Regions from separate parts of the Homo sapiens genome. Here region 2 is linked to region 1. The links come from fine-mapping of genetic effects on gene expression. A gene starts in region 1. The other region holds a variant in brackets. All regions are shown on one strand. Distances are from middle to middle. Region 1 holds the start of ASPH (aspartate beta-hydroxylase). Region 2 has its middle 24 kb from the start of LINC02842.

Region 1 (2,910 bases):
TGGGGGGTGGGGGGTGGCTAGAGCATTGTGTTTTGAAATTTAGCTCTCATTTTTATTTTATATGAAGCACCATCACTCAGATTTATTTCTTAATCCAGTTCTCCACCTCCTTCATTGAGATAATATAATAGAGGGTTGTAAGGGGGCCCTGAATGGGAGAAAGGATATATGGATGCAGAAGGAGATGCCACAAGATAAAAGCTGAGAGAGCTACTTCAATAAAAACTCTGTGAACTCTCCCCTCCCACCGTCTCTTGATAATAGCCTAACACTATTTGACAAAAGGTAAAGAAAGGCATTCTCTTTATTCTGCAACATGACCTTTGGGGGGTTTCTGTGCATCATCAGGGCAGGGTCAAGCAGCATCCAACCATCCACAGGTGAAAAGGCATGGGGCCGGGGGGAGGCGGGAGTGCTTCTGAAGGCGCGGGTGGGTGGGTTTGTGGGGCTGGAAAAGAGGAATGAAACCAGATGCCACAATGCAACTGCTCTCTCTGGTCCCTGAGCCCTCCTGAGACACTCCCAGGGGTTGCTACGAAACATGATCAAGAGCTGTGGGTTCAGCAATTGACAGAAATGTATCAAATCACTAAGCATTTCTTGCTTGCCTGTTACACATTGGGCATGGTGTTAGCAATGGTGACACAAAGATGATAAAGACGTCGCTGATCTCAAGTCCTTGTCTGGTTCAACCACGTGCCAAGACATTTTAATACTCTGTTGGGAATTCTCAGGCAGCACAGGCCCAGGCGTTAGCAAAGCAGCCAGGGATTTCAGACAGAGGGTGCCATCCAGGGTAAGAAAATGAACTTTTTGTGTCACATTTGCATTTTCATTCCTTAACTAAGAGTATCTGAAAATACTGATGGCACAAACGAACTAAATTCCTGCTTCAGCACCAAATGGATGAACTACTACGGTTTAAGCATTGAACTAGTCCTAATATCACCATTCCAGAAATGTCTTAGTATTAATCAGGACAAGAAATAGGGATCTCTTTCGCAAGAAGCGAGACTGCACTCCTTCCTTTCCTTGTATACGGAAAGGGGACAAAATCCACAGTGAAAGGCCTAGAAGCGGCGCACTCCGCCCACGGGCGGCCCACGTGTCCACCTATTCCGCACCGCGCCCTGTCCCATCCCTATGGAGCGGGGTCTGCCAACGCTCGCGAGAGCCCTCTCGGCTTCCACGTTTGCCACGTTCCAAAGGACCGAGACAAACTGGAAAGCCGAAAGAGGCTCGCGCTCACAGGCAGCTGCGTAGCGCCCGAACAGCCCTAAGTGAGCAGGGGCGGGGAGCGCGGCAGGGTACCGCCGCCTCGTAAGGGCCCTTGCGATTGGGTCCCAGGCGCCGTCACTCAGCCTTCCGGGGGCGGGGCGAGGCCGGGAAGGGGCGTGGCCGTCGGGCGGCGAGCCGCGCGCTCTCGCCCCGGGAGGGAGTCACAGGTTCGTACACGCGAGGCCGGGCGCGCGCAGCCGGCAGGCGGGTGAAGTCTTCCCAGGTGCTGCAGGCGGTGCTGAGGCACAGGGTCTGCTGCAGGAGCAGCGGCCCGAACCCGCTCCAGCGGCCCGCCGCCGCCAGCGGTTCCCGCGTCGCGTGTGTACCCCCGCGCACTGAAGGAGGTCCGCCAGCCCTCACCAGCCCCCGCGGACCGTGCAATGGCCCAGCGTAAGAATGCCAAGAGCAGCGGCAACAGCAGCAGCAGCGGCTCCGGCAGCGGTAGCACGAGTGCGGGCAGCAGCAGCCCCGGGGCCCGGAGAGGTCAGAGGCCCTGCGGGGCGGGGATCTGGGGCCTCGCCTCGGGGTAGGGAGCCGGCTGGCGCGGCGGACGCTGCGGGTGCATCTCCCCAGGTCCCACCGCGCGCCGCCTCCATCCCCCGCGACGCTCCTCCTTTAGGCGCGCGGGGCGGAGGCCGCATTCGGCGGGCCTGGCGGGCGGGCGAGGGGCCAGGCGGACCGGGGTCCGAGCCCTCGGGATGCTAGTCTCGGGGAGCCCCTTCCCAGCGGTTCCTTCACCTGCAGGGCGCAGCCGAGACAGAGGTTGCTGAACGACTGTTTCTTGGCTTTCCGTGGAATTGAACATGGGAGTAAGAGAACAATTTATCGTTTGCCTTGCGTGTTTTGGGGAGTTGAAAATGAGCCAAAGTCAGGGAAAGTGAGTTCCTGCCTAACCAGCAGCGTTTCAGAGCAACTCAAAGGAGGTGAAAATGGGGGCGCCGGGGGGCAGGGGGAGGGAAGAAGTTGGGAGTGATTTGAATGCTCTCAGAAATTATTTTAAATATTTTTGCTTGTATGTAGCTTTCTTAATATGCGTTGCAGTTGCCTTTAAAATAGAATGTCATGAAATACTGAACGAGCGTCTGTATTTTTACCACTTTTACTTAAAATAAAAATCGATTGGATATTCACCTTTCTCCTCGTCCGTGTGCATATCCAGCAGAGAGAACAGATTTTTAAATCTGTTTCGTCTCATATTTCAGTGATTCTTGGTTTCTTTTATACTTCCTTTGACTCATATTTGGGATATTGAAACTGCAATACACATGTGTATGGAATGTGAGCTGTAAACTTCACTTGAAGTGATTTAGACTCTTTGTTTTCTGAGATCTTCAGATCATGCATTCATAATATACCAAGAAAATGAATCAGCTATAGTCAAAGAAGTATTTTCTTTATAGCACTTGTCACTATCTGAACTTGTCTTATTACTTTCATGTGTGTTGTCTTTGGCTCATTCTCTCTGTATCCCCAGCTCCTAGAATGTTCCTTTCCCATAATAGGTGCTCAATAAATATTTGAGTAGTGAATGAATGAATGGATTTAAATGGGGAAAGTAGTGCATTAAATCCATTGCACAAATTTACATTCTAAGGACTAATATTTGTATTCTAAAAGTAAAGATGTAGACAC
Region 2 (2,910 bases), 47 kb before region 1:
CCTTTTGCTAGATGAGGAAACAAAAACAGAGAAACATAGAGGCTAAATAAATTTCCCATCAGGAGACAAGTAAGTGGGCAAGCCATGACTTGGCCCCTGGTAAACTCTGGAGATGTCACAGTGAATTGCTATGCTATATGGCCTCCTTCAGGCTCATTGGGAGGGTTGAATGAGAAATTCAATATGCAGCAGGTCTTGGAACAGTGCCATTTGTTCAACGTGGTTTTGTTATATGACTGGGCCCTGCAATAGGATGGCCTCCTGGCCAGGGTTAGGTCCCTCTTTGCACTCTGAGCTGTCAGAATAGGCTCTGGCCACCCGTGACCCTGAACTGCAATAATTGGGTAATTATCTTCCTTGTTTTTATTAACGTTTCTTAAATGTATGTATAGCTCACATTTATTTTAGCTTTAGTATTAGAAGTGTTTAGGGGGTCTTTATTTTGAAGATTGGTGAGGTCTTCGTGATGTTATAGAAACTTAACTCTTGTTTATATCAATTAGCCTGTGGGAAAATTGGTTTCATTATATGTCATGTTGCTTATAGCCAAAGTTTCCAAGAAACTATCTAGGACATTAAATGAGAACTTAACTGTGTAACACTTAGTCCCTGGCACATGATAAAGGGTCAATGTTAGCTGCTACTATTAAACTATTGAAATGAAAATTCAGTAATAGTGTAAAGTCAAGAAAAGAACAGGATGCAGAGAATGCTTATTTTCTGACTTAGAGATTTCTGAAGGTGCAAAGTGTAAAAGTCATGACTATTCTGTAAAAATAGAAGAAAAACTTTCCCCATAAAGTAAAAACTGGTAGCATCCAATATATTACAGTCCTTCTCATTGTACCAAGTGGTCAGAGATTACAAGGCTTACAGAAACTTTGTATTATGCACCCTCTTGCTGCCTCCACTGGTGAGACAGTCAAGTGTTAGTCTTCCAAGTTGAAATGGAAAATAGATCGTCTCCATGGAATATATCAGTATTTTCTCTTCATGTTAAGTCTTAGTTCCAAACCACCTCCCCGGACAGTCGGAAATCCCACTGGCTGGAGGAATAAATAAATTCCTTATCTTGTCAAGGAAGCTCCTCCCAAGCTACAAAAGTTGCAGACAGCAAAGGGATCAAGTGACCCCAGAGATGAAATCTGTGACTCTCTGGTGGAGCAACATGATAGTAATAAACAAAGGTTGAGTGCCTGCTGTATAAAGCAACCTCTGGAGTGCCTGATATCTACTAACTCTTTTAGCACCCACTCGACCCTGTGAGATGCGTATTACTTTATTGTATCTACCACTGTAAAAAAGAATGAACCAAG[C/G]TACAGCAATATTATGTTGCTTGCCCTGAGTCACACAGCTGAGTAAGTCACAGGAGTTTGTGCTCATAATGACTTTGCTATGCTGATGTTTGAACCTGGAACCATTCAGCAACCCTCCAGCTAATATGGCTCCATGCTCTACTTCTGGAAAAGCTGAGTTCCTGCAGCCTTGTCCTACATCACCCAAAAGAGCTGGAAAAGAATGCAGTGAGTTCCATTCTATTTGTTCCGAGAATAGGAAAGCCACATTGAAGCAATATCTTAAAGAGAAATCTATAGTTAGGAGTGATGAAGATTTGAAACAGATGTCAGCAGAAAGAAAAAGGGAGAGGCACCATGATAATTATACTCAGTGATGCTTTTTAAATGACATATATTCAGTTAAATATAGGGAGGTTTGCTGCTAGCCATATGAACAAAGCACAAGAGAATTCCTGGATCAAGGCAGACTTAAAGAGACATTGAAAAAAAAACAAAATTCAAAATTTTGACCTAGTGCAGGAAGAAGTGCAAGTACAGGGGAAGTGGAGGGAAGGAGTGGGGAGGCTGGCACAGAGATGGCACGGGCAGATACGAGCAGATTGACTCGCCAGGACTGTCATTGGGCCACCGCTCTTAGCAGGAATTTCACCATTGAATGACCTAATTATTGTCTTGGGAAAAACACAAGAGCTCCTGTCCATAACAGGATAACAGATGTATTTCAGTGGAGCACAGAATAGGCCGGATGGTGACTAGCAAGAATAAAAGCCCAAGTGGACTGAAGAATCCATCCAAGATATGGTCAGGACGGGCTTGTGGAAAACTTGTGCAATAATGAGAAGAAATGTTATTTGTCACTACCTTTTTTAGGCAGCTGTGTGGATAAACCTACTTTGGGGTAGGAGCTGAGCCTCAGGCCTGTGACCGCTAGAAGCCAGACTTGAAGCCAGGAAAGAGGCCGCTCTTCCCAGGAGTTGGGAGAATTTGACTTTGGTGTAGAATCCAAAAGGCGGGAGAGAGGGTTCCAGGGAGGAGCTGGGGGTGGAGGCTAAAAAAGGAGCCCTGGTTGCCAAAGCCAGGAGGTGACTTTACAGGAGAGCAGCAGTGACTAAGCCAGGAAGTGACTTTGCGGGAGAGCAGCAGTGACTAATTCAGGAGGTGACTTTGCGGAAGAGCAGCAGTGACTAAGCCAGGAGGTGACTTTGCGGGAAAGCTGCAGTGATTGTGAAGTTGTTCACATACAGGGGGTCATGGGACACCCTCTACGATCTCCCGTGGGAAATCCTCAGTAAGCACTCTCACTCTAGCAATAAGCACTCTCACTCTAGAAAGCCCTTTTGGTGCTTCCAGTCACATTGCCTGGCCCACGCTCGGTGAGAGCTCACATGCGCTTCTGGTCCTGGCCTTCTCAGACGCCACAGTAGCTGCCCACCCTGCAAAAGACCTGGAAGGGGAGGGGAGCCTGTGCCACAGCAGCCAGAGGATGAATGTCCTGTCATGAACAATTCCTGGGGGCACTATGTACATTTTGTAGAAGTCCTGCCAGAATGGAACCTTGCTGTCTACAGCAGCGACCTTGATAACACATCATTTGATTTTTCCTCCTTTTGTG

The links.
Region 2: its variant is fine-mapped to the expression of ASPH in whole blood (INTERVAL, PIP above 0.99).

The regions. Positions count from the first base shown.
Region 1 is chr8:61,713,120-61,716,029 of GRCh38, reverse strand. ASPH (aspartate beta-hydroxylase) reads left to right here and starts at 1,438. Exons shown (of 25, transcript NM_004318.4): 1 at 1,438-1,761. The coding sequence starts at 1,659. It overlaps MIR4470 (microRNA 4470), which reads right to left and starts at 1,242; the gene lies at 1,171-1,242. RefSeq lists silencers at 1,229-1,598, 1,639-2,068.
Region 2 is chr8:61,759,856-61,762,765 of GRCh38, reverse strand. No RefSeq gene overlaps it. Among named protein-coding and RNA genes, the nearest start is that of LINC02842, 24 kb to the left of the region's middle. RefSeq lists an enhancer at 1,790-2,910. The variant C/G (reference allele first, on the strand shown) is at 1,317.